Linked DNA regions of Homo sapiens. The protein of the gene in region 2 purifies or fractionates together with the protein of the main gene of each other region. This does not show direct contact. Each region holds a gene or a part of one and is shown on either strand. Other genes may lie near its edges.

What was found.
Region 1: the proteins of HAO2 (region 2) and PPFIBP1 purify together in Homo sapiens (affinity purification with mass spectrometry; 2 studies listed by BioGRID and IntAct, with this or other methods). This does not show direct contact.
Region 3: the proteins of HAO2 (region 2) and ZFTRAF1 purify together in Homo sapiens (affinity purification with mass spectrometry; 2 studies listed by BioGRID and IntAct, with this or other methods). This does not show direct contact.
Region 4: the proteins of HAO2 (region 2) and TBL1X purify together in Homo sapiens (affinity purification with mass spectrometry; one large-scale study listed by BioGRID and IntAct). This does not show direct contact.

What each region holds. Positions count from the first base shown.
Region 1 is NC_000012.12:27,526,307-27,531,273, forward strand, and holds part of PPFIBP1 (liprin-beta-1), read left to right. Parts: intron 1-4,967. UniProt on the Homo sapiens protein: May regulate the disassembly of focal adhesions. Did not bind receptor-like tyrosine phosphatases type 2A.
Region 2 is NC_000001.11:119,370,799-119,375,765, reverse strand, and holds part of HAO2 (2-Hydroxyacid oxidase 2), read right to left. Parts: intron 1-4,967. UniProt on the Homo sapiens protein: Oxidase that catalyzes the oxidation of medium and long chain hydroxyacids such as 2-hydroxyhexadecanoate and 2-hydroxyoctanoate, to the correspondong 2-oxoacids.
Region 3 is NC_000008.11:144,452,304-144,457,270, forward strand, and holds part of ZFTRAF1 (zinc finger TRAF-type-containing protein 1), read right to left. Parts: intron 1,158-4,967; coding exon 919-1,157; intron 268-918; coding exon 56-267; coding exon of another isoform or gene 1-55. Other genes in the region: TMEM276-ZFTRAF1 (uncharacterized protein LOC157542 isoform 1 precursor), read right to left, coding at 56-267, 919-1,157.
Region 4 is NC_000023.11:9,715,659-9,720,625, reverse strand, and holds the end of TBL1X (F-box-like/WD repeat-containing protein TBL1X), read right to left. Parts: intron 4,407-4,967; coding exon 4,380-4,406; 3' UTR 886-4,379; downstream 1-885. UniProt on the Homo sapiens protein: F-box-like protein involved in the recruitment of the ubiquitin/19S proteasome complex to nuclear receptor-regulated transcription units. Plays an essential role in transcription activation mediated by nuclear receptors.

The DNA.
Region 1 (4,967 bases), on a different chromosome or scaffold from region 2:
GGGACTTGAATATACCAAAACTCTAAATTTGATTCACAGTTTGAATAATAGCAGTAATTTTACATACTTAATTTAAACCAATATTTCTCTTTCTCAGTCCATGTTTATGAGGCAGATATGGTGTAGGAAAACACGGAATACTTAAAAGATGTTTGAGTTATTGAGAAAGGTAGGATCAGTTTTTGGTTAAATTCCTGTGACCAACAACTGTCATATTTCCAAGAGCAACTTTAAAAATTAAGGTCGGCCAGGCTTGGTGGCTCACACCTGTAATCCAAGCACTTTAGGAGGCTGAGGCACGCAGATCACCTGAGGTCAGGAGTTGGAGACCAGCCTGGCTAACATGGTGAAACCCCATTTCTACTAAAAATACAAAAAAATTGCCGGGTGTGGTGGTGGGCACCTGTAATCTCAGCTACTTGGGAGGCTGAGGCAGGAGAATCGCTTGAACCCAGGAGGCGGAGGTTGCAGTGAGCTGAGATCTCGTTATTGCACTCCAGCCTGGGCGACTAGAGCAAAACTCCATCTCAAAAATAAATAAATAAAATAAAAATTAAGGTCATCTGGCCTTAATGGATAAATGTTGATTTGAAATCCAGGACACACTGAAGTTCCAGATCAATAGTGCCTAATTTCAAGGGCATCACTGACATTTTTTTGGGAACAAGTTCACCGAGGGACAGTTAATTAACTGTTTATGTAGTCTTTTTGTAGCTCCCTGTTCCACCGTGAGATAAATCAGAACAAGGTCATTTTTCCCCTCAGTTACTGACTAGCTGACTTCTTTTAAAACCTTTCCTATTCATAAAATATTTGTATAAGTAAATTTAGATTATGTTGATAATTTGTTACATTAAAATTAACTTTTCGTTTATATCCCAAACCAGCATAATTTTCAAACTGTTAACTGAAAGAAGACCTCATTCAGCACTCTGTCTTTTCTTTTTTCTTTTTTTTTTTGAGACAGGGTCTCGCTCTGCCGCCCTGGATGGAGTGCAGTGGTGCAGTCTCGGCTCACTGTAGCCTCTGCCTCCCAGGTTCAAATGATCCTCCCACCTCAGCCTTCCCTGGGACTACAGTCATGCACCAACATGCCCGGTTAATTTTTGTATTTTTAGTAGAGGCGGGTTCTCACCATGTTGCTCAGGCTGGTCTTGAACTCCTGGGCTCAAGCAGTCGACCCACCTTGACCTCCCAAAGTGCTAGGATTACATGAGTGAGCCCTGGGTGCCCAGCCTGTCTTTTCAAAGATGTTATTACGTGTCTCTGGCCTAGTTTGAATTACCTTTTCAAAACGATGAAGGAGTGAATTAATGAATGCATATTCATTCATGTTTGGGTCTGTGTCTTGATTCTTTATTAAAGAAACGTCGCTTCAAGGCGAAAACATAGGCAAGAAATGTTGCGTAATGACGTTTTTATTTTCAGAGATTTCCTTAGAAAGTCATATTAGCTCCAAAATTAAGAAAAAAAAAAATCACAGTTGAGCAGCCAGTTGTGAAATCTTTCAGGGAGCCATAATCATAACTATCATGATTATTTTGTTATTTTTAACCGTGGCCAAACAGATGGATTTAAATATGCGAGTCAAAGCTGTTAGGGTTACTGTCTCATTTTGATGCAGGGTATTCTTTGCTTTTTTGTTTGTTTGTTTGTTTTTGAGACAGAGTCGCTCTCTGTTGCCCGGGCTGGAGTGCAGTGGCGTGATCTTGCCTCGCTGCAACCTCCACTTCCCGGGTTCAAATGATTCTCATGCCTCAGGGTCCCAGTTAGCTAGGATTACAGGTGTATACCACAACGCCTGGCTAATTTTTGTATTTTTAGTAGAGACGGGGTTTCACCATGTTAGCCAGGCTGGTCTCGAACTCCTGACCTCAGGTGATCTGTCTGCCTCAGCCTCCCAAAGTGCTGGGATTATAGGAGTGAGCCACCACGCCTGGTTATGCAGGGTATTCTTTGTGAATAAAGGGAACAAAATGTCTTCTGGCCAGCATTTTCTGTTCAACCAAAGGTGGATAACTTCACAATTAAATCAGTTATCAAACTGTCCAAAAACTGCTCTGGGCTCTTGTAATTCAGTGCATCAGTAGTGTGTTATGTCAGTTATTTTTCAAATTTATTGCAGTGCACGTCAGAACCTTCTTCCTAGTAAAAAACAAAACAAAACCCTACAGCTTTTGTCATATATGTCACTGCCGCAAAAATTGATGCTGCGTTAAATGGAGCTCATAAATTTAAAACTAAACTGAATTATTCCACCCTACAAAATACATAGAATCTTTCTTTTACACCCTTCATTTTAGATATAATAATTACTGATGCTCAATTGGTGTTCAGTGATAATGTTTCCAGAAGCCAAGTGGTGAGCATTTTTTTTCCACTTCAAAAAAAAACCTAACATACCAGACAACTGGATTTTAGATAAAAGAAATATGGGTTCTTCTAGGAGTTTTAAGTTTACGCACTTTTTAGGCAGTTTGGGGGAGGAGGAGAGAGAACCTGAGGTAAATACGTACCAGTCTAAACCCACTGGAGAGTGTCTATTTCTGAAAGGTGGGTTTGGACTCTGAGTGGTCCAAGTGGATGTGTTGTCACAGTTTGTGAGTGCTCTTTGGTTATGCTTCTCCCTGGAACTTGATGGGACTCACATTTTGACTGGCCCACACACACATCCTTGTTTTTGTTGGCAAGTGTAATGAGTTCAGAATAGAAAGATCATGTAGTGGTTTTATGTACAGGGGTGCACCTAACAATGTCCATGCCTGAAGGAATTGTATAAACTCAAATTGCACTGAGTATCCGTCATTCTGGCCAAGGGTCATGTCTTAAATATGGATCATGTAGGAGGAAGATCAAGTACCACCATCACGTTTGGGGCTGGCCCTAGATTTTATGGACACCCTCTGGACTCCACAATAGGCCTGGATATTTTCACCTCTCCTTTAATTTAGGGAAATTATTCATTTGACATGAAAAGACAAGTTCAGAAGAGTAGGTATGCTCATTCTTAGTGTGTCTTTGTTAAGAGGTGAAACTCCATTTCACCTGGTGAAAGAGGTACTAAGGCTTTTTTCAGTGGCAAGTCTATTCCTAAAGAAGTGGCCAGGCTGGACGCGATGGCTCATGCCTGTAATCCCAGCACTTTGGGAGGCTGAGGTGGATGGATCACTTGGGGTCAGGAGTTCGAGACCAGCCTGGCCAACATGGCAAAACCCCGTCTCTACTAAAAATACAAAAATTGGCCGAATGTGGTGGCGCATGCCTGTAGTCCCAGCTACTCAGGAGGCTGAGGCAGGAGAATTGCTTGAAGCCGGGAGGCGGAGGTTACAGTGAGCTGAGATCACGCCACTGCACTCCAGCCTGGGCAACAGAGCAAGACTCTGTCTAAAATAATAATAATAGTAAGTTGCCAAATTTTAATTTTTCCTTTTAGCAATAATAGCTGAACTCTTAAGAAGTGGCCAGATTCTTCAGGCCAGCAAGGTAGTTTTGGGGAAGAACTAGGTAGGCCCATTGGGAAGAGTGTGGACTCTTTTATGGTATGCAGTAATACTGTACCATATCACTAAATGTACCTGTGTTTTCTTGTATTTCCGTGCCTAGGATCAAGCTCACTGATGTCCTTTTGCTGGCACTTTGTTATCCTTCTCTTCATCCATAGTACTCTACACAAATATTATCTTACTACCACAGAATTGCAAAAGTTTTTCATGAGGAAAGTTTATTGTATTTACTTTATTTAGAAAAAATGAAAACAAGGTTGAAACTCTGTGGTCTACTTTTTTCATCTAGTGACTTGACAGGGCGGCTGCTATTGCATAAAGAATGCCTTTGCAACCGTTATCTTTTTCTAAAGATGCTGCCTCTTATAACAACACAGTATAGAATTTTCTTTTGTTTGCATTGGAATTTGAATACATCTACTTTTTCTTGTGAATGATGGAAGAGTCGAATGAACCTGTGGGTTCTCGAAATTAACTCTGGGAAGTGAGAGGGTGGAAGGGAAACAGTGACGACTCACAGGAGACACACTGGTTGAACCTGTGATCTTGCCAGGGCCATTTGTGTGAAGTCACCTGAATCTCGGTGTTTTTCCTCTGGATCAGCTGCCTGGATGGTTTTGTCAAACTTTCAGATCCTTCCATCCTCCACCCCCATCAATGTGTGACTTTGCATAACTGAGAAAGCTACTAAACACAGAATTAAGTTTCTTTTATTGTTTTTCTCTACTAAGGGAATTTGATTCTCTAGGATGACTTGCACTTCATGTGGGAAAGACACAGCTGGATGCCCAACTGATATCCATTCCCCCCTCCTTTTCTGTAACTGAACCCATTTTGTTTAATTCACCACTATGTCCAGTTAAGTGCTAGATTTCCCAGAATCCCTTGCAGCTGGGAGGTGGTTCAGTGACAGTAGTCCTGGCTGATGAGATGTAAATAGCTGGATGCCCCGTTCCCCAAAGCTCTTAAAAGGGGAAGCCTCTGTGAGCTTGCCTGTTAAGCCTTTTGCTCTTTGTACTTCTTCCCTGGAGAAAGTAAGCAGGCCATCGCGTGACCAAAGACAAGATGCTTGAGGGTTAAGGATGAGTGGGTGGAAGGTTAGAAGGAGGCTGAGAAGCTGATAGCATTCTGCAACTGCTCTACTGGACCCATTTCTTGACTCTGTGAGAAAAATAAAATCTCTACTTGGTTAAACCACAGAACTTGGGTCAGTTACTTGCAGCCAAATGTGATCTTAACTGAGTCTAGATGTCTAAAAATCATAGTTCATCTTTTCTTTAAAAATAAAAACGTGTTATTTTGTACGAGAAAAACAGGACTTTGGAGCCATGCAGATCCTCAACTTGAATCCTGGCTTTGCTATTTATTACAGTCTAATATTGGCAAGTAACTTAACCTCTCTGGGTCTCAGCTTTCTCATCTATAAAATGGTAGCTCTGATATATGTGCCATAGCATTTTTTGA
Region 2 (4,967 bases):
TGTAAGACTTGCCTTTGCTCCTCCTTTGCCTTCTGCCATAATTGTGAGGCCCCTTCAGCTATGTGGAACTGGGAGTCCATTAAACCTTTTTTTCTTTATAAGTTACCCAGTCTCAGGTATTTCTTCATAGCACTATGAAAATGGACTAATACAATCAGGTAGTAAGTTATTATGAGAGATGGTTCTGAACTCATGTGTCCTGGTAGCTTCTAAAGATAGACATTCTCATTTTCAATTTCAGGTAAAGAACACAATAGTTGGTTCTCATAAATGACTTGCCATATTGAACTCGAGATAATTTTGTAGGTTGAAAAATACAATTATATATTTTTAATATAATATATGTAAATCTTAGTAGTCTATTATTTTGGTTAGAGGTTTAATATAAGGTTTATAATTAAAGAAAAGGATACCTTCCTTGTTCAAAGCTTTTCCTAAATTTGGAAGTGAAGAACTTAGCACAATATATTTGTATATACTTTCTTTCAATTTGATCCCTACCAGCCTTGAAGCCACCAGAAATTAAAGGGAAGATTCAAGTAATCTAATGGTTTTCTTGTATTCCCACTTTATTTTGTCTTCTTGTATTCCCATTTTATTTTGTCTCCATTTCAATGTTTTTTCTTTTTTCCTTTTTTATTCCTACTGCCCAAGAAGAAGAGACAGAGGAGAAAAGAATAAAATAGCAAATTGACCAATTGCCAGCTATTGTTCTAGAAATTTTAGCTCATTTTAGCTCCTTGAACCTCTTTAGGCTTTTTGTCTGATAAAACAGTGAGGTAAAATTAGCAGACCAGTGACAAAGAGGAGGAAATCTGAGGGCAAGGACATTCAGGAGTACCTGTTGCTAACAATCTGAAGTTCAAACTCTCCTGACTGAGGGAAGGAGGAAGGAAGTAGAGAAGCTGGCAGGCTTTTCAAGGAAGACGTGGTTTTCTTTAATATTGCAATCTGATTTAACACCAGACAGATAAAAAGTTGTCTTCCTTTGAAGATTTTGTATGATTCATATGATTCATGTTGGTGTTGCTTTAGGAACTCAGGGTTATCACAGCTTATATTTGTATGGAAACCCCCTACACAGTCTGTGGGAAATCTCAGCGTGAAAATTGCAGGGTAGGCTGTGGAGATACAACGGGGGAGAAAAGTCAGCCTCTGATGACTCACTTTAAGGTACACTTGCTTGGTGCTATAGGATGGTGTCCTTCCAGAACCTCTGGCCTAGTTCTTTAGGAACTTATGCCAAGTTTCCCAATGGAATGTCAGATAATATCAAGGCTACATTTTACGGGCCTAGTTTGAGAGATTAGACTGTTCAAAGTTGGCTGAAAATGCTGTAATCAGTCTTCCCCTCAAGGATAGTGGATACAAAGGGTATAGCCATCACCATGGCATTGTCAACAACAGCACTGTCAGGGGAGAGGCTGAAGCTAGAGGAGACCCTGAGAATGAAAGAGGTGATGGGAGAGGAGAAGGGTCCCAGAGCTGATGGAGACTAGGAGAGCCATGTGCAGATGGCAGTGTTGGGTTCAGGGAAGACATGAATCAATGGCACTGGAAAATGCTCCTGTGACTGAGGCAGATGAGCCCCCAGCATGGGGAAGAGAGGGCAGGGGGAAGAATTTGGATGCCCAGGAACAGCAGGTCAGCCCTCAGAGTAAAAAGGGAACTGAGTGTTTCTAACATTGCAGTGATCTGAGGAATCAAGGATGGCATTTGTATGGGAGTGAGGGGAAAAGAAGCCAGTCCAGTTCAGATCTGGCAAGGATTAATTCCTGGTGCCTGTCAGCCCAGAATCAGCTCTGGCTTCTTCCCTGAGCTCTCACACATTGTGAATCAAGGATGCAGGAGCCTTCTGAACCATAATGGCCCTTTTTTTGTTTGTTTTATTCTGATTTATATAATAATCTCTCCTTTTTAGGCTGCCACTCCTCAACCACTCTCATTAGCCTTTTTTTGTTTCTACTAATGAAAATTCCCTTCTCAACCTGTAAGCATGTTCTACCATGAGGAGTATGATGCTTGAGTTCTTCAGAGTGGCTTCTTTAGTCATGATAGGGAGTGACTCATATCTTTGCTTTACTCTAGGAGCTTTGTGTGTCACGGATTGAAAGAGTTTTTGAGATTTGCCGTGGTGGGGCATGTTTATGTTAAGGACATGCTCACTCTGAAGTTATTGTGACCTAATTAGGCAATTACCTACCATTGTCCTGCCTCCCACACATCCTGCCTATTGAGGATTGGAAGACTATGAGAATAACTTGCTTGATGGAGCCAAGAAGGACCCTAGAGAGACAGAGAGATGTGCACAAGTTTGGCAGCACAGCTAATAAATGAACTCAGGTCTTCTGTCTCTGCATTTAGGGTTCTTTCTGAAATACGATATGACTCTTGAAATTGCTTCTGGATAGCCTGGCAATATAACTTAGAATTAGCTTCTCCTTACATGAGAATTAGCTTCTCAGCACAGACCCAAGATTTCTAGAGACTCAACTCATCTACACTAGATTTTATCATTCCACCTTCACCTCTACTCCTTCTGACCCTGCTTAGCCATGCCAGTAAAAGGAGCTCCACTTGAAGTTGGAATACGGAATAAACTTTTGCTTCATCCAGTCAGTGGAGTGGTGTGTGTGGCAGCCTGAGAGGCAGGCTGCTTCAAGAGAGATAGCTACTAACACTTATTTGAACAGTGGCAGGCTACATGTCTTCGCTCCAAGTCTCAGTTTCCTCATTTGAGAAAATATACATTTTTGTGTATTTCAGCTTAATCCATGATAGATTTGAAGCCACCTGAAATTAAAAGCTGAGCTGAGGTCCTTCAAGTACTCATATTCTGTGCTTTCTTTGCCCATAAACACAGGGAGCTGTTTAGATGAGGTCATATGAACATTCTAGTTCAGCATTTACTTCATGGCAATAAAGTATAGAACAGGGAACCAGCACAATATTTAGACATATTTGCCAACAACAAACAGCTGGGTGCTCAAGCCTGCCTTTGCTCCTCCTCCCCAGCCTGGAGGTCTTTCTTTTCAAGAACTTTTCTGGTCCCGTGGCACCACCTTATGGTTTCAGTGGATAACTACTTGACCAGTCTTGTCACTATTCCCTTTTACAAGAGGTACGGCCTGTCACACCAGCTGTTTTTCCTGTTCTCAGACCAGGTAATTGAAATCCGTTTTACTACACAGATGTGCCTCTTCCTCCTTTCTCGATTTCTCCAAACTATTGAGTGCCTTTCTCAGGGAAATCTTTCTCACGCCTTCTTCTCTTTTCCTAATCTCTCCCATCTCATTTCCTTTTTCATTTGCAAACCAAAAATAATTGTGCTATGTAGTCCCTTATGTCAAGAAGAACAAAGTGAAACAATTTTGAAGTCGCATTAGACCTAGCAAAGAACTTCAAAAACCTTTGAAAATACCCTCAAAGGCATCTTAACATTTCTTACTTACATTTCCACTGAATTATCTCTTCCTCTAATTAAGCCTACTTTTCTTCATCAGTTGCATATACAAGAAATTTTTAAAAATGATTTATTACACAGTTTTCTTAGTTTTCAGTTTTGGTTAATGACCAGCAATACAATAACATTGCTTTACAGTAATTTGCATTGCAAATATGCCAGATCTTCTGCTATTTTGTGTATCAAGTGGGTATTTTCAGTCACCTGGGAATCCAACCGCTATTTTAATAGCATTCTTTTGTGGGAAAATCTGTTCTGAGTTTCAAACAAATGCCCTCCAAGTAGAGTTTTGGAACCCAGCCATATTGTAAACTGTGTGCTGTCCATAGAGCGTTGAACATAGTTTAGGGCATACTGGGAGACATTGATCCAAATGTTTATATAGTGTTTTGAAAGATAAGGACTTTCTTATTCTTTCAAACAGTGGAATAATTTGATTATGCAAAGAGCCCTGGAGGCAGCATGATGGTTCCTTAATATGAATAATAATAACGACAATAATATTGCAACCATTTTTCAAGTACTCCATGATGTACCATGCACTGTGTAAATTGCTTTACATGCATGACTGTTTTAATCCTTGTGGAAATGTTCAACACAAATATTATCATCCCCATTTCACGGGTGAGAAACCTGAAGTTCAAGAGGTTAAAATACTTTGTTCAATATTACATATCTAGTAATGTGTCACGATTCCAGTGGCCTGGCTCTTAAGCACTATAGAAAGAAGAAAATGGGCACAGCCAAGTGTGGTTTATGGAATGACAGAGTTGGCACGGACCTTAGAGGATTAAAATGTCATGGACATATGCAACTTTGCTTTCTTCCCTCAAAAAATCATAACTCAATCAGAAAGTTAAAAAAAATCTTAATTATTCAGCCAATCACTAAAAAATAACTTCTTATGTTTAAATCTGTCTTAACAGTCTACAGAGCACTCTTCTATACGTTATTCCATTTGGTGCTTACAACAATCCAGTGGGCAATCAGAGAGTGTATGTATGAGCCCCATGTTATAGATAAAAACATTAAAGCTCGGATAATTCACGTGAGTATCCAAGCTAATGCAACAGAAATGGCAAAGCCTGACCTGGAATCCTTCTGACTTGTTTCCAATGTCTTTGAGCCAGTATGGAGTGTTACTGGTATGGGGGAGACATTTAAGTCTCTGTTCTGAATGGTCAGAGAGTTGCATAAAATGAGCTTGGTCAATTCCCACAAAATCCAGGCCATTGGGAAAGGAGTTCTATGTGACACTGTGAGATCACTGCACCTGCCTCTTCATCTGCTCAACAAGGATAGAATGTGCAAAACAGACATCAGAATTCACACAAAGCTCCAAAACAGGCTCTGACGTCTACTCTGTCCACTAGTGACTTCAGGTCTTGCAGGTGTACCTATATCTCACAGTGGCAATCACTGGGTTGTAGCAGGAGAGAGAGGAGAAAAGGCAGAGCAGTTGGGGATGGAAGAGCCCAGCTATGGAGTGCAGTTTTTTCTCTCT
Region 3 (4,967 bases), on a different chromosome or scaffold from region 2:
GCCAGCCCCCCAACCCACACCTGTGTGGCATGCAGCAGGCGGCGGGGCGCCTCACCTGTGTAGCCAATCTTCTCGAAGCTGAGCAGGCTGAAGATGCTGTTGTACAGCTGCATCTCCTTGCGGTGGCTCTGGTCCATCCCATCCAGGATCTCCATCAGCTCACTGCCTGTCTTGGTCGGGTGGGCGCACGCAGCCTCGTGCACCGTCAGCTCATGGAAGGGGCCGTGCCATGGGCAGCCGATGCGTTTGTACTTGCACTGGGTTACCCTGGGGGAGGCAGGTACATCACTCACAGACTGAGCCCCGAACAGGAGGCTGCAACAAGCTGTCCTCCCATATGGCTTCCATCCAGCTAAGAACCCCTTCCTGCAGGACACACGTAACTGTGAGCCCACCCCCCAGGATGAGGTCAGAGTGGCAGCATGTGGAGAGAAAGGAGACAGGCAGAAAAAGGGAGAGAGAGGGGAAGGAAGAGTGCAAGCTTGAGCCTGTGTGCCCCGCACCATGGCGTGGTTCTCTCCTCTGTTTGGCAGTGGTGGTCCTGCACAGCCTCACTGCAGGAGACTTGGTGGCTGCCTCCACTGGATGGGTAGCCATGGGCAGTGTACCCTCACACCAAGCTCCCTGAGGTCCTGCGTTGGACACGCTGTCCTGGGCCCTTCAAGGGGCTCCCCCACAGCCACAAAGAGCACTGGAAGGCTAGGCTCATGTCCGGATAACAACTGGGTGCAAAACCCACCTGTCCCCATCCTGTGCAGGCACCCTCCCACAGGGCCGTCACTGGGCTACACAGGTGGTCCCCAAGGCCCAGACAGCAGAGACAGCCAGACCACCCTGCACAGGGCCCTGCTGCACCAGGGTGGGCTCCCAGCAGTCCTGGGCCCCGCCTGTAAGGCTAAGCCCCTGACCCTCAGTTACCTGTCCTGGCATTCCTCTTTCTGGTGCCTCTCCAGGAGGGAGCGGGGAAACTGGCGCAGGCAGAAGCCACACTCTGAAGGCAGCTCGCTCACGGCTTTCTCCACGGCCAGGTTCCGGCAGCAGAGGCTCTTACTGATCTCACAACGACAATTGGGGCACGTGGCCTGCTCCTCCTTCAGCCGGGCATCTGCTAGTAGGTGGATAAAACAGCCAGCGCACATCAAGTGACCATTAGTACACTGCGAAGAAGGAAAGGGAGACGAAGCTCACAGACCTGCGGGCTCATGCTCGCACACACCCGCCCATGCCCATCAGCTCCAGCCAGGTGTCCTGAGGGACTCCAGCTGGTGCAGAGGGGCGCACGTGCCTGTCCCGAGTCGTGCTGGAGTGTGGTGAACACTGCGAGCTGCTCAGGAGAAACAGGCAGAGCCAGCTTGGGTTCTTGCAGAGATTAGAGGTCCTAAAAGCAAGGCCTCATCAGCTCACAGAGGTGACAGCTCGCCCTGGCAGTGACGGGTTCAGCCACCTGGGGCCGAGGGTCACGCTTTTCCCTTAGGGACCAGCGACTGCCCTGACCCCCCTACAGGTCCAGAGTTTGGGAGCCCTCCAGGAACACTGGGCTCTTGGCCATCACTGTCAGGTGGGGAGCGGATGCAGCTCCCACACTGGGGCAGGCATGCTCTCTGGGCCTTCAGAAAGGCCATTTATCCTGGGTTGAGAGGACTTGGCTCAGGGTGAGCCCAGGTGAGAGGAGGCAGCTGCCCCCTCGTCCAGGGAGGTTGGCTACCTGCAGAGACCTCCTCAGAGCTGGGAGGCAGGAGCCAAGCTGGCCCAGGACAAGGACAAGGGCAGGTAGGCACACAGGGAGTGCCTGGGGAGCAGAAATGGGGGCTCTGAGTGGGTGCCGAGCCTGCTGGGGTAACCGGGGCTGGCAGGAGCAGGGCACCTCCCGCTGGGCTCCCTGCCTGTGTGGGCTCCCAGCACGCCCAGTGGCCTATCCTGGCTCTCACTCCCTCAACATAAGCCTCGAGCGTCCACTTGGTGCCACTGAGAGACACATGGCAAGCTGCGGTCCCAGCCCGTGGGGGCTCACAGCATGGGAGGTGGGAAGCCCAGACCAGAACCAAGAGGTCCAAGAACAAACAAAGCCTTTTGTACCTGAGCAGACACAGTTCCCACAGCCCTGGCTGGAGTGGGGTGTGTGGGCTGAGGCATTCCAGGGCCAGCCAGGAGTGACAGGGATGTGATGTGCCTCCCACCCAAAGACTCTTAGAGCTCGCTGAGGGGAGCAGTCAGCAGAGTTGCTCCTGTCCTGATGCCTCTCCAGCAGCCGGCCCAGGCTTGCCAGCCATGCAAACCTCCAGAAAGCCACTGGGCTACAGGCTTCCTTTGGGACCTGGGACCCTCTTGAGAATGGGATGTGGTGCAGCAGAGCAGCCTGCCCAGGCCCAGCCTCTCTACAAGGTGTGTGTCAGGGAGGGGACACTCACAGGGCCCTGCCTGGTGGCGCTGGGAGGCCGGCCCTGCCTGGTGGTGCTGGGAGGCCAGCCCTGCACACGTGGGGCCCTGGGAAGTCTGAGCTGCCATCCTACTGCTTCAGCTGCCTGTGCACCCCAAGCTAAGGAGCTGTCAGACGCTGGGGCTGTTCACTCAGCACCTGTGGACTAGGCCTAAGGCCTGCTGAGTCAAAGGACCTACATGTGGAGAACCGACAGTGAGGACAAAGCCCTCTTTCATGGAATCCACATCCACATGAACACCACCCGTTACCTGCATTCAATCCTCAAGTTCTCAGTTTGGTTAAAAATTAAAATTACAGGCGGTGGCTCATGCCTGTAATCCCAGCACTTTGGAAGGCCGAGGCAGGCAGGTCACCTGAGGTTAGGAGTTCATGACCAGCCTGGCCAACATGGTGAAACCCCATCTCTACTAAAAATACAAAAATTAGCCATGCATGGTGGCGAGCGCCTGTAATCTCAGCTTCTCAGGAGGCTGAGGCAGGAGAATGGCTCGAACCCGGGAGGCGGAGGTTGCAGTGAGCCGAAATGGTGCCACTACACTCCAGCCTGGGAGACAGAGTGAGACTCTATCTCATGAATACATAAATAAATAAAAATTAAAACATACACAGTTGCCTGAGGCAGGGAGTGAGACTGGCTCTGACTGGGTTGGGGACAAGCTGAGACCTGCCCCCAGGAGAAGGTGTGAAAATCCGCCAGCCAAGTCCAGGGGTCAGTGGTGGGTGGACTACAGGCAGGAGGGGGCACAGATGCTATTGAAGCAGCTGTCCTGTGGGAGGCACAGACCAAGGGCCCACACCACTGTCCTCTCACAGCCCCCCGCCCCCCGGAGGTATGCCACTCCACGTGGCCAGCTCTAAACACCTCCTGGTGAGACTGCCGGGGGCCTTGGACGAGGTTCTGGGTCCAGCTCTGCACGTACAGTGGCCTTAGCACAGGCAAAACAGCACTCTTCTTGGCTGTGGCCCGACCCCCAAGGGAGTTCCAGGCAGGGCTGGAGCATCTAATGCCACCCACCAAGGCCACCTGGCCTCTCTTCCTGGCTCTGCATAGCCCAGGAAGATTCGAGGTGGGGTCCTAGACCCTCCTAAGGGAGCACTGAGGCTGCCAAGCACATCACCACTTACCTCCCAGCACTGCGGGCCTCTCCCCCGAAAGCCACCCCAGCTCCTGGGCCGGCCCCTGGCCACAGGCCTCATTCCTTTGGGGCCTCCAGATCCCAGCATGGGCTCAGTCAATTCCATACCATGAGGAGGCAGCAGTGACCCTGCCCTCCTCTGGCTCTCTCTGGGCCTCCAAGAGGACCTGCAAGCTCCGAGGAGACACAGGGCCATTGCCCCTTCAGCCCCAATAGCTCCATTCAAGTCAGAACACAGGGAGTCCCTAGAGTGCCCTGGACTACACTGGCCCAGTAGCCAAGGGACACAGCCACACTCACCCCCAGACCCTCCCCACTGGTCAAAGGACATCTCTAGGTGCATGGCCCGGTCCCGACCAACACTCAGCCCAGGAGGTCTGTCCACAGCAGGACGGTCCCTGGTCACATGCTCCGGAGCCTCCCCACCATCTGGGTCCCCTCAGCCCCTGCGCAAGACTCTGGCTCTACACCAAGGCCAGGCCACAGGCAGCTGCATCCTTGGCCCTGGCAGCATCTGGCCAGATGCACTTGATTCTGACTTGTGCCCAACACCCAACAGAAGCTGGGCCCTGGAGGGCGCCGCACAGTCCAGGGGATGGCGTGGGCCAAGGCCCCCAAGAGCCCGGGCACCTTCCAGAGCAGCTGCTGTGGCACCCAGGCCAGGCCACCTCTCCCCACCAGCCAGGAAGACCCCAAGGGAGGGGAGAGGAGGGGATCCACAACCCCCCACGACCAAGAATGACGCCATGGGGGATGACATCATGGGCGAGACATCACAGAGGATGATGTCAGAGGGGTGACATCGTGGGAAATTGACATCACATGGGGAATGACATCATGGGGGAGACATCACGGGAATGATATCACGGGATGATGTCACATGAATGACATCACAGGGGGGACATCATGGGAGACTGGCATCACATGGGGGGATGACATCACCGGGGGATGACATCACAGGGGCATGACATTGCAGGGGAATTGCATCATGGGGGGTGACATCACGGAATGACATCACAGAGATGACATCACACTGGCATCATGAGGGAATGACATCACAGGGGATGACATTACGGGGATGACATCAAAGGGAGTATTGACATTACAGGGGATGACATTGTGGGAAATTGACATCATGGGGGACTGACATCATGGGGGGATGGCATCATGGGGGGAATGACACCATGGGGATGACATTAAAAGAGGTATTGACATCACAGAGGTGATACCACAGGGGATGACATCATGTGGTGACAGCACGGGAATGACGTCACATGTATGACATCACAGGGGAATGATGTCATGGGGGAATGACATCACGGGGGAATGACATCACAGGGCCTCCTGGGCCCTCCTAGGGCAGATGTGGGCTTGAAGCCACAGTGCTGGGC
Region 4 (4,967 bases), on a different chromosome or scaffold from region 2:
ATGAAAATGAGAAGGTGAACCCCAGAAAACACCGGAAGATAGGGTAAGTTTTTCTCTAAAGGTGACAACTGCTCATATAATATTCAGTCTTCAGTTGCCAATTCAAGACTTGAATTTGGGATTTGGTTCCTGCAAAAGTCCGGATCATCAGTGAAGGTCACAGGCACACTTGGATCTTTCCCAGGGAATCACCACAGAAGCCTCTACGCCCCTAGCCATCTGCTTTGTCCTAGTGCGGAACAAGCAGGATTAGAGGGAAATGACACCGTGACTTTGTCTGGGACTCATCTGCAAAGTGAAACCTTAGACTAAGAGTAAGGCCATCTCTTCGCCTCTCGGAATCTACAGCCTCCTTCATAGAATGCCGATAGCAATATCCATTCACTAATTACATTATTTAACAGCCACCTAATTAATTAAAGCAGCATAAATGAAGACATGCACAGAGCAAATGTCAATAAATGTTTGCCACATGTTGGTTTGCACCATGCAGACGTCCATGTCCAAAGTCACCCCATCCTGTTAGGTTCTGCAAATTACTCGGGGGTAATTCGGGAACTCAAACTCCCGGTCAACCAATCCGCTGATGAGAGAACATTCATTTGCTTTGTCTTTCTCCAACAGCCAGCCTGAAATAAAGAATGAAAAGGAAACACACTAAAAAACATGATCCCTGGACAGAACCACCTTTCAGAACAGCAGGCGGCTGCTGTGACTGCCATGTCACTGCGTTCTGCTCCCAGCTCCCTATCTCACACAGCAATCCTAAACAGAGGCTCAAGGTACTTCCTTCTGGAGAAAATACAGAGCTCTGTCTTCAGTCATTCAGTCAACGTGGGCCCAAGAGTTCCAGAGCGAGAGGAAGAAAGCACACCCACCAAGTTCTCTAATATCAAAATAGAGCAATTTATTCAAGACACTGAATATGATCTGTTGATTCTCTCTTGAAACAAATGAGCTACAACACACAAGGTGATTTTTTTTTTTTTCTTCAAAGAGCGTGAGGGTGAGTACAGGTGGCGGGGGGAATGAAAAGGCGGTCGCTGTCATCTGAACAGAATCGGAAAAATGCCAATAGAGAACATGTCTGGCTGTACGTCTGACACAGACAATAAAAACTGCACAAGCCAGAATGCAAAACTTCAGTGAGTGGCGGAAGGAACATTTCTGCATTTGACAAGAAACATAAGCTTTTTTTTTTTCTTTTTTTAAATGGCGGAACAAAAGGTTAAAAAACAGAAAAGCAACAAGAACAAAGCAGACCCTTACATTTGACAAAGTGCACTTCACTTGGCTCCATGATCTATTTCTTAGAAAGACTAAACAAAAGTCAAGTCCTACGGTGTCGCGAGGGGTCAGAGGGTTTCACCCTGTAACGTCCGGCCCTTTTGGTCCCCCTTGGGGCAGCATCCCTTTCCCAGGTGTGTGCTGGACCTGACTCTCGGTCACTGTGAACCCGACCAAACACTCTAGGAAGGTCTGTCATGCTATGTCTGCTTTCAAGGTCACGTTTGGTCACTAAGACTTAGGCATTCCTCACCATGTTTTAAGAGCTGTAAACAACGTTGAACAATAACATTCCACAGGCCATTTCTTGATTACAGGGATGACTCTACCAACATGCCAGCAGCAGAGAGGGTGAGTAGTGGTGTGCAAATGCTGGAGGCTCTGAAAACGGCTGTCCATGGTGTTGTCCCGCTGAGAACGGGGATGGATATGAAGGGTGCTAGCTGCATCTCGCGCTTGGTTTTGCTTGCGGCCGCAGGCTGGGGAAGCCAGGGATGGAGCCTGGGGTCCGAGGCCTCCCAGCCCAGGTTTCTACCTAACAATTCCGACATGGTTCACATTCATCAAGACTAAAGCCATCCCTCGGGAGAGACCCTGGCTACCGACATTCATGTGAAGATTGTCTAGTGAATTGCTTGCGACACATCCCACCATCGCCATCCCACAGTTGTTACTGGTTTGTCAAGCATAAGCCATGCCCTAACGACAGGCTGGCCTTTGACAGCAGATGTTCTACAGAGATGAGTGCATTTTTATTTGGGTGGGGTAGAGATGGTGTCTTTTGGACCCCAACAAACTGTACTCTAAACTTCACAGAGTCCTTGGGACGGGAAATCATCACCTCATCCAGGGACACTGGCTATCTTCAAAGATGGGTGCGGCGACTCCACATCACTGTGACCTTCTTTGCTAAGTGTTTCGGAAACAGAACACGAATAAAATACTCATCTCAGAACCAGAGCACTTTTTGGTCTTCTGGGACATGAATAATTCACATACCCAAGTGGAGGCCAATCAATGATCTGAGAATGATCAACGCACCCTGGCTTTTGCAGGTGGTCCTGGCACGTTCCAAGTTCCACAGAAGCCCTGACCCTTCCCCGATGGCTGGGTTTTGGCTCCGCAGATGAATGCCACCTTCACAATAACACCGTCTCACTGCTGGAACACACACCAGATTGCACCCTACCCACTGCTGGTGACCCAGCAGCCCCCACGGGCTGGGCCATCTTCCTCAGCCCTTCTGCCCACAGGAAAACCAATGGGAGAAGAGGCCCTTGTCCTTTGGCCTTTTCCCCCTTGCTAATGACAAAAATAAGTCCGTGTCGGGTTATGACAGCAAGCAGATGGAGGTCACCAGATTCACTGAAATGAAGCTCTTCTAGGAACACAAAGCCTTGTTTAATTTTTTAAAAACAGCAAAAAGATTATTTAAAAAAGATCTTTCTCCTAGTCTTCTGTGAGACAAAGAAATTATAAAGATGGCAGAAATTATTAGCGACGTTCTACCTCTATAATTCACGTTCAGGACTGAAAATCTTCCTTCTGCATTCATTTCTGTCAGCGTTAGACTAAGTGACATGCGGGCGCCTCTATGTCAGCTCTGCAAGGACTCGCCAAGCCTGCTCTTGGAGAAATGACCATCGGTCGTTATACGGTTGTGGGAAAGATGTAGCCAACACGCCTAATCCAGCCGAGCAGTCGGTTTCGACGGCTTCTGCAGTACCTTATGGTTCTGCCAATGCTCCCTTGAGGCCAGAGGGCGCGCGGCTCTTCGCTGCTTTCCTGCTGGCTGCCAAGGTGCATACACACCAAAAGATGCGAGGTTCTTCTTCCAGCCGGCATGGCGGGGACCTCCCTCACTGGCTGCAGAGCAATCTCGCTGCTGACCCCGAAGACTGACCCTTGTCCAGCCAGAGTTTTCCTGACCACCTTTCCTGAGGCTGAGGGGAAAGCCAGGGGCTCCCTCAGGCCCTGCCTGTGGCTTCTTCGGTTCTTTTTAAAACATGAATCACACAAAGCTCTCTATGTCTGATGGCCATTTTAAGATTTTAAAATTGTTTTAACATAAAAATATTATTTTTTTTTCCAAAAATACTCCAGGCTCTTTCTCTTATAAGTCATTTTTTTTTCTCCTGTAAAAAGCCCCCCTGCCCTGCCTTCTTACATAAAGCACTTACTACGCGCCAAAGTGCCCTTGAGACCTAAGATCTGAAGCAACTATGAGAAAGGTACAGAGGGAGAGAGAGAGAGAAAGAGAGCACGCCAGTGAGAAAGCGAGCGCGAGCGCGAGCGCAAGGGGAGGAGAGGGTGGGAGAGGGCGGAAGGGGGAAAGCTGTCCGTGGGAGATTGTGTCTTCATGTCCACGGGGCTGCATCTCTTGATGGTGCACTGAAAAAGCAGAGCTCACCAGACAGAGTGGAAAGGCAGGGGGAGGGGCAGGGAGCAACAGAAGGAAGAGACAACAAGCCCAAGACAGCTTCCATCTCAGACGGAAGGCCCCCAGAAGATAGAATTCCAGCCGACTGAAAAACCACCCAATGAACAAAGAAGATTCTAGAAAATAGAAAGTGTTGGGATTACAAAGTTGCGCGTTTCATCGGTACAAACTGGTCTTTGAACCTCCTTTGTGAGAGCAATTGTAGTGTCCAAATTGTTAGGGAAAACAAAAAAAAAAAATCCCAAGGAGGAGGGTTTTTCCCCCTTCCCTGTTTGGTTTATCACAGCATTTTGCTTTTTTTTTGGCACAGCTTTTTACGTTTCTTTCCATTCAGCCATCACAGAGCCTGTTCCGGGTGGAAACCAATCCACACGCCTCGAGCTGGTGACTTCCTCCTTCCCAGGCTGAATGTCCTCAGTGGAAACCATTCTATCCCCGTTTGATATGATTTGCTTCTGTTTTTGCTTGCCTTTTAAAAACTTCTTGATGAAGATTACGAAAACATATAGACTCCTGCGGCCAGAGACGAGTTGGTTTCAGAGTACACTCTAACGCAAGTCAAGTTCCTACAGTTTTGGAGAATAGAGCTGCAACCCTACACATTCACGGCTGGTCATTAGAATTCTTTTCTTTTTTCGATAATATTTTGTGGTTACTTCCGCAGATCCAAAACACACACCTGGAAGGAAAGATAAAGCACCTGTCATCTTGAGAGACAATACAAAGATGCCTTTAGAGTGAGAAGTCGGCAAGCTACGGCCCCCACGCCCAATCTAGCCCTCCACCGATGTTTGTCAGTAAAGTTTATTGGAACATCGTCATGAAGGGTCAGAGAAGCTCTCATAACAGACTGGCATCTGGACATCGGACCGAGCAAACTGAAGCAAACAGCACAGAGCAGAAAGGCCAGGTTAAGGGTAATGATAGGAATTAACAGAGTGGCAGAGGTCCCAGAAGGGACACCTGCAATCGTGGGGCAGATGACAATACGAGCCCAAGTACACAGCCTCTGACAACATTTGGGGACTACTCTGACCCTTGGCCGTTCAGCCAGAACGGCCGCTTGCCCCAGAGGTCAGGGCAACCTCAAGTCCAGGGGAAAATAAGAAATCCAGATGCCCCATGGGAAGAGAAGAGGGCCCAGGAGACCTGCAGGATGGCCACCAGAGGCCCGGGCTTCTCAGCCACAGCATGGGTGACAATTGTGGCCACCCTGTGCACAGTAGGAGGTTTAGCAGCA